Linked DNA regions of Homo sapiens. The protein of the gene in region 1 interacts with the protein of each later gene in a biochemical or structural test. Each region holds a gene or a part of one and is shown on either strand. Other genes may lie near its edges.

Evidence for each region.
Region 2: the proteins of EFNB3 (region 1) and FRMPD3 interact in a test that uses a peptide from one of them, tested with the Homo sapiens proteins (one large-scale study listed by IntAct).

Annotation. Positions count from the first base shown.
Region 1 is NC_000017.11:7,703,796-7,708,001, reverse strand, and holds the start of EFNB3 (ephrin-B3 precursor), read right to left. Parts: upstream 2,801-4,206; 5' UTR 2,404-2,800; coding exon 2,282-2,403; intron 45-2,281; coding exon 1-44. UniProt on the Homo sapiens protein: Cell surface transmembrane ligand for Eph receptors, a family of receptor tyrosine kinases which are crucial for migration, repulsion and adhesion during neuronal, vascular and epithelial development.
Region 2 is NC_000023.11:107,596,152-107,599,651, reverse strand, and holds part of FRMPD3 (FERM and PDZ domain-containing protein 3), read right to left. Parts: intron 2,332-3,500; coding exon 1,510-2,331; intron 1-1,509.

The DNA of each region.
Region 1 (4,206 bases):
CCCCGATCTGAGGGTACAGCACATAACCACCCTCTGCCTGGAACCTATGGGGAGGAGGGTAAGGTGGACAAGGAAGAGATGTCAGAGGCCTGGCCCCCAGAACTTTCCTTCCCTCACCCCACAACCTTCCAGGACAGCAATTCTCAGCTCACGCTTGCCCGCCTTTGTCTGAGTGGAAAGTCTCTTCTTATAGAGCAGGCACCAAGGACTCTGTGCATTCACATTGGAAGCAGCAGGAAGCCAGGCTCAGGGGTCTCCTGCCCCTTGGTGTGCCCAAATGCACTCCACTCTTCAGCCCGCCCTCACCACATGCACACCGCCATCTCCCGCTCCATCACCAGCCCCGTTGCCATGGCAACAGGATGCCAGTTACCAAGGAGCTGGCCTCTCTGGAACCACACAGCCCACCCCTCCCAGGTGATTTCACTATTCCATGGCAGCCAACCATGCGGGCAGAGCCTCCCCTCCTTCAGGCCACCACTGAATTTCAGGGATTTCCGGGCAAAGGGGGCGGCGGTTCAGGGAGGGGCTGTGTGGAGGGTGGTCCAGACCAGTGTCCTAAGTTAGCCAGCTAATAGCACAGAAGGCAAATGCCTGGTTTGGCCACGACCATCATTGGGGCTGATGGGAACCAGGGTCTAGGAACCTGCTGCCTGAGTCATTCTCCCACTCAGAATCCCACACTGGGTCTTAGACTTCTGGGGCAAGTGCTCTATTGCTTTGGAAAGGAAAGGAGTTGACTTTTCTAACCACAACCAACACACTTCACCATCTCCTTGGCCAGTGCACCCAGGCATCCACTGTCCCAGCACAGCCACAACTTGCCAACCCCTGCAGCCCCTTCCTGGACATCAATAGCTGCTGAGACAGGGTCTCAGGACTGGGTCCCAGGGGACTGCTACTTGATATCTTCCCAGACTCCCAAGTGTCCCACTCCCACCCCACATCCGAAAGAGCCCCCAGGACACCCTAACTCCCTTTTCTCTACCCTGTGAAAACAAGCTTATGTTCTCAAGCTACACACCTGATACTCACATTGCAGCTGGGAGTTGGCAGGTGGGTGACTGAGTACAGAAAAGACATTGAGATTATACCCAAAGAGATCCAGGGAAAAGAGAGGGAGGGATGGCAGAGCAGAGAAGTGTGAGGGAGGCTGGGAAGTAAAGAGAGGAACAATAATCCTAGCTCTCCTTTAATGAGCACATAATACATTCAAACACCTTACCGCTAATCCTCATAATAGCTGTAAGGATTGAGGATACAAACTCAGAAAGGTTAAGTGACATGCCCAAGGCCACACAGCTGAAAGCGGCAGAGCTAGGATTAAGACCAAAGATTTGATGAGCTCCAAAGCCCACCCCCTTCCCATGGCCTCACACAGTCTCCCCAGGGAAGTAGGAATTTTTCAAAACACAGAACTCTTTTATGAGCGGGAAGTGGGATCCGCATGTAGGCAAGGGACCCAGGTGACCTCCCGAAGGTTCTGTCCTACCCAGCGTGGCTTGAAGTTTCATCTGACCCCTGGCCTCTTTTCAGAGCAAAGCTGGCATGCCATGGAACAGAGGGTCTGATGGAAGAGTTTGCAGCAAAGATTGGGGGAGGGGGCAATGGAGTCCTCCAGATGCAAAAGGGAAGGAAGGAGGGTTCAGGGGGCTCCAGGCTTCTTCCAGCAAGATGCCGGCAAGCCAGGAAGGCAGGAATATGTTCTGGCTGGGAAATCGTTCAGCCAACAGTTCACTGACCCTCTGGCTGTGGGGAAGAGTTGGGAGACAGACTGTGAAGAGAGTCAAGGAGCCTTGGGGAAGTTGTCCCCAGAGCCCCCAAACGGAACCCCCTTGCCTCCCATCTCGGATGCGCAGTCCCTCTGGGGGAGGGAGGCACCCTGCCCTGCCTTCCCCTCAGCGACTCGCAGCACCTAATCTGCAGCTCTCTCCTGAGAGCTGACAGTAACCAGGCTCCCTCCAAGCCCAGCCCCCGACGCAGGCCTCCCACAGATCCAAATACCCACCTCACTGCCCTCCCGGCTACCCATGAACTTTCTTCTCCTTGCCCCTTTGGGGTCTCCAAACTCCTGACATCCATAGCACCACCCGCATCCAGCTCTGCGTGGGACCCGGAGTCTGGCTCCCAAGATCACCTGTCTAGTAACCCATCACACATCAGAGCACCAGCACCTTCCCTCCCGCCTCCTCCCTGCCCACAGAAGCCCGCCTCCAAGCCCCCAGAGCTTCCCTACCCACTGCCCTAGGGTCTGGGATCTCCCCAGCCGCAGGCCACTCACCTCTTATTCGCCGAGTTCCAGTAGACAGGCTCCAGGCTGAGCCCAGACACCAGCCCCAAAACCCCCAGCAGCAGCAGGGCCCCGACTCGCACGCCCCCCGGCCCAGAATGGGGGGGCCCCATGACCCCGCCAAGGCCTGGGGGGCGGGGCACCAACTCCCCCAAAGTCGCCCACCCCCCGGGGTGGCTGCCTTGGCTGCCTGGCTCTTCAGCCCGGACCACCCCGGTAGCTGATGCCCCCAGCGCCCACGCGGACCTGCTTCCTGCTGTGCCCGCGCCCCCGCGGCAGAGCGCTCAGCCCCACCAGAGCCCTTCCAGGGGCCGTCTGCAGGCGCCCTACGCGCCCCCGGCCCACGCGCCAGCACCCCGGGATCTGTGAGCCCGCCTAAGTGGGGGACTGGGGGAGCCGGGGACCGGGCGGGGGCGGCATGGGGCGCCGGACCAGGGAGCGAGGAAGGGGGCGCCGAGCCGGAGCCCCAGCCTCGCTGGGATTGAGGGCAGCGGGCTAAGGGAGGAAACCAGTCCCGAGCCCAGGAGGGGGGAGTTAAAGGAGAGGCGGGGAGGGGCAGAGGATGGTGGAGGGAAAAACCGGAGCTGGAGCTCGAGGCGGAGCGGGCGGCAGCATCCCGCGGCCCACGCCCCCCACACCTCCCTCACCTCGCGCACCTCCCGCCCGCCGCCCCGCCTCAGCCCCCGGCGCGGGCTGTCACGCCCCCTTTGTCTCTCCGAGCCTCTGGCTCCGGCTGAGTTCTGCCCGGCTCCCCTCCTGCCCTCCGATCGCCCAAGCTGCTGGAATCTTCCTCTCTCGAATCCAGAAAGGCTCTCGCCCTCTCCACCCCGAGGAACCCACCCCTTTCGCTCCCGCAGCCTCCTCCTCCATCCCAAAACAACACCGCTGCTCCCGGCAGGTTTGGAGAGAATAATAATAACCTTGAAGGCTTGGCGCTTTACAAAGTGCGGCGGAGCTGATCGTCACGACTACCTGTGTGAAGTGGGAGGGGCAGAGCTAACGATCCCATTGCAGAGATGAGGAAACTGAGGCTCAGGGAGGCCCCGTGACTTGCCCAAGGTCACACAGGAAGTCTGGGATAAAGCTAGAAACCAAACCCAGGCTGCGCACCTCCCACTCTTGGGGTCTCTTTTGTCACTGCTCCATGGACCAAGTGCTGTTGTTACCTGGGGGTTAGTGAAAAACAAGAGTTTAGGGGATACACTTGGGTCTTTCCTAGATGGCTGGGGGGAGAAGCGGGGCTGGGAGAAGAAGGGGCGTACCTACAACCCCAAACCGGCGCTGCGCAGGAAGGGCTGTTTCCAATTATCCTGGGGGAAGGGAGGAGTTGCCTTTTCGGGTGTAAGAGCCCTGGCTTTCAGCACCTCTGGGCAGGGGTGACATTCCTCTCCCTCTCAAGCCTCCCCAGGCCTTTCGTCCCTTCCCTTTGATTGTGAGGTCCAAAATCACATCCCCTGCTGGCAGTATTTCTTCAAAGTCCCCCCATTCTCAGTGTTTGGGAAGGTGTTGGGGGGAGGAGGGAGGAGTCACTGCTTCAAATGACACACTCGTCCCCCACCCCCAAAGACAGAGCAGACAAATGGAGAAACAAGCCCAGCGACAGCCGCTGAATGAATAAGACCCTCGCCGCGCCCCGCATGGAACAGCAATATCAAAGGTGACGACTGTATTTTTCAACACCTTTACTCTTTTATGTGTGTCCTTGACTCTGGCAACTGGGTTGTCTGCCTCCTGGGGAGCCCCGGGGAGCGGAGGAGAGTGCTCCTGCTCCCCTCAGAGCTGAGTAATGGTCCCCATGCTGCTGGAGAATGGCAAACAGTGTGGAGTGTGGGCGACAGGCGCCCTGTCACTGTCTGCACAGTCTCACACGGTCACACCCAACAGTCTGACCCAGCTCCTGCTCAGCCCCGCTCACC
Region 2 (3,500 bases), on another chromosome or scaffold:
TAGATTCAACAGCTAGGAAATTTTTGTTAATTGTCCTAAAGAGGGGCTGGCAAAGAGAGGTCTCTCTCTATCCCTCCTCATCTGGCCAGGCCCGCCTACAGTCATTGCAGCTGAGGCCATTTAGCTGAGCTTGTCCTCTCTCCAGCAGCCACGTGGGACTCAAGCCTGGGAGCAACTAGCACTCTCTCCAGACTCTAAGCAAAGAGAAATGCCAGCCCTGGGGGCCAAATACATGGGGGTTGTCCAATGTCAAGGGTGTCCTCACACATGGAAAAGGCAGGCTCTCTCTGACCCCAATCCCTCGTGGTCCCTATTCCTCCCTATTCCTTTTCTGTTGCTGTGTCATTTACCTCTTCTCTTTCTTTTTTCTTCTTTTTTTTTTTTAGAGTCTCACTCTGTCACCCAGGCTGGAGTGCAGTGGTGCAGTATCGGCTCACTGCGACCTCTGCCTCTCAGGTTCAAGCGATTCTCCTGCCTCAGCCTCCTGAGTAGCTGAGACTACAGGTGTGCACCAGCCCACCCAGTTAATTTTTGTATTTTTAGTAGAGACAGGTTTTCACCATGTTGGCCAGGCTGATCTCGAACTCCTGACCTCAAGTAATCTGCCCACCTCGGCCTCCAAAAGTGCTGGGATTACAGGTGTGAGCCACCACGCCCAGCTCTCTTCTCTTTTTTTAAGGTGTATGTATATGGAGGGACATATGTGTGACTATGGGTATGTGTCTGACATGTGTTTGTCTACAAGATGGACATACATGTGTTTATAACAGGGAACAGCATGCATGTTGTACGGTTTTCCTGTGAACTAATACTTAGTTACAATAGCTACCACTTACTGAGGCCTTACTGTGTGCTAGGCAGTGCTTACATGCTTTGCATGAATGATCTCATTCAATCCTTGTGACAACCCCATGTGATAGAACTACTTTTATAAAACCCATTTAAGATGATGGAATGAGGTTCAGAGAGAGTAAGTGCCTTGCCAAAGGTTACACTGACAATGATTGAAGAAACCAGGACTTCGGTGCATCTGATTCAGAGCCCATGTTCTTAGGCAGGATAAAGACCTCAGCCATGAGCAGTGATGGCCCTTGGCTCCCCTGGTCCCAGGTCACTAGGTAGTGAGTTGGTCGTTTTCCTTTTCTTTCAATCATGTGCATGCTGGATGTTCTGTTCTTCACCTGTCTTCTACATCTCTCACAGTTTTTCTCTGATCCTCTATCCTGGCCTGCATCCATAGCTGTCATGACCCCAATCCCTGGGATCTATCTGTAAGGCATTTCCAAAGAGATGCAATGACGAGAGCCAGAACTCTAGCTAGAGCTGAGCAGCTGCTCCCTGCTGTAACATCATTGCTCCTCTGACCCTATCTAAAGAACCTTTGGTACATCCACTGCCCTGACATACCTCAGTGACTCTGACACCTATTTGGGAAGACACAATGTTACCTACTGGCCCTTGTTGGACAAGAGAAGGGGGTGGAAAGAGGGAGAAGGAATCGGTCATTACCTGCAGTCTGTGGGGGTGGTGGGTGTGGTCCATCCTCGGATGCAGCCAGGGCTTCTAGAGCCTGCAGAGTGGACACCAGGGCATCATCTAGCTCCTGGGCATGATCTCGAACTGTCCGGGTCTGCACACTGTCAATCAATGTCACTGGAATCTCATCGTACAGAAGCCCACGCAGGTGGCGTCCTTGTTCCTGGCTCTGGACAGCCCGGCGCTTGGGGTCATCCTCATCAGAGCTGTTGTCTCGGAAACCAGGGGGTGGGGCAGCAATGGCTGGCAACAGAGAAGTTGTCTCATCTTCCTCCTCCTCCTCCTCCTCACTCCCAGGTGGTGGGAGGGACATCAAATCTACTATATTGTCACGAGAGGAGCCAGGCTTCCCACCTTTGCGAGGGCCCAGCTGCTCCTGAAGTTTGGCTTTGCAAGAGTCACAGTAGAAATTCAGGGCTTCAGCCCCAAGGGAATTGTCCAAGGTGTAGGACCGGGCCCTGCTGGCACAAGGCTCGTGGTCTAGGCTAGCTGCATCAAAGTCATCAGGGACTACCTCATAACCTTGGCCAGAGCTTTTGGATGTGGGGTCAGACTTGGTTCGGGGCCTGGTCTCCTCAAAGAAGATTAGGTTCTCGTTGACATCTGTCCGGCTTTCCTGCTCCTTCCTTTGTTCCCGCATATGGAGGTAGCAGAAGCTGACAAGCTCAGAGTCGGCAGGTGGGGGCGTGCAGCGGCTCGATTTCCTGGGGCTGGTGCCCACGCTGCCCACATAACTACTCTCCTTTTTCCCCAGGTGGCCCCCAGTGACAGGGCGGTGGGCGCTGTGCATGTAATCTAAACCCAGAAAGAGAATCAACAGATGAGCCCTGGTGCCAAGGATTGTGAATGAGCTCCCTTGTTGTCTCTGGCCCATGTCTCTGTAGCACAATCAAGTGGCAGGTCCCAAGACAAAGCATTACCTGGCTGCCAAAGATTAGAGGTAGGGAAGTTGATGAGCTATGTTACTGCTGACCCTGAAAGTAGAGTGAATAGAGTCTAATAACCTGAGCTGCTAATAGCCCCATCACCTCTGAAATGGGAAAAGGCATGGGGTATGGTAGGGGTCGGGGTGAACACCCTGGTTTAGGGCCTGGTATCTGGGCACAGCTGGACTCTTACATGGATACCCTCTATCTGAAAGTCAGCTGTAAACGTATGTCCCACTTGGAACTGTTCCTACCCCTGTCCCCACCCCTTTTCAGAGCTTTTCCACCAGTGCTCTGTTGTTCTTGTTATCTTGAATCTCTTCTAGCAGAAGGAAATAAATCTGACAAGTTACTAATGCTTTAGTCAGAACCTGTTAAACAGGCTACATATAATGCCGAAGAGTTTGCATTTCAAAGAGGCCTGTTGATGGAGGGATCCTAAAAGAATAAGGCTCTATATTAGAATTCCGGGGTCTGAATGTGTAAAGTATATGGGAGATATGCTGGGATGTGCATATGTGGGAGGAGGGCAGGGGAAGCATTCTTATAATTCTTCAAATTTTATTCTTTTCTGCATTCATGCAGGGCCAGCCCTACCTGCTACACATACATATGGCAAATGCTCTCGTCAACCGCTCTTAATGATGGTAGGTGTGTGCATCTGAGAATTATCTATAGCAAATGCTTTATCTGTGAATACCTTCTCTCACTGTTTTTGGAGCTCTTCCCCATTTTATCTGTGAGAATATACTCGGACAGCAGACAGACAGATAACAAACAAGCACTAACTTAGGCTAAGGTCCTAATATACATGATCCTACTTATTCTTCATAACAACCCAATGAGGTAGTTATTATCATTATTCACATTTTAAGGATAAAGAAACTGACTCACCTAAGGTTACATAGACCAAGTGGTAGACTGGATTTCCGCCTAGGTCTGAAAGACTTCAAAACCCATGTTTTTAGCCATTACCCTTATAACTCATCATGGTGGTCAAGATGCTGGAAAACAAGCCTTCAAAATGCCACTCAAACT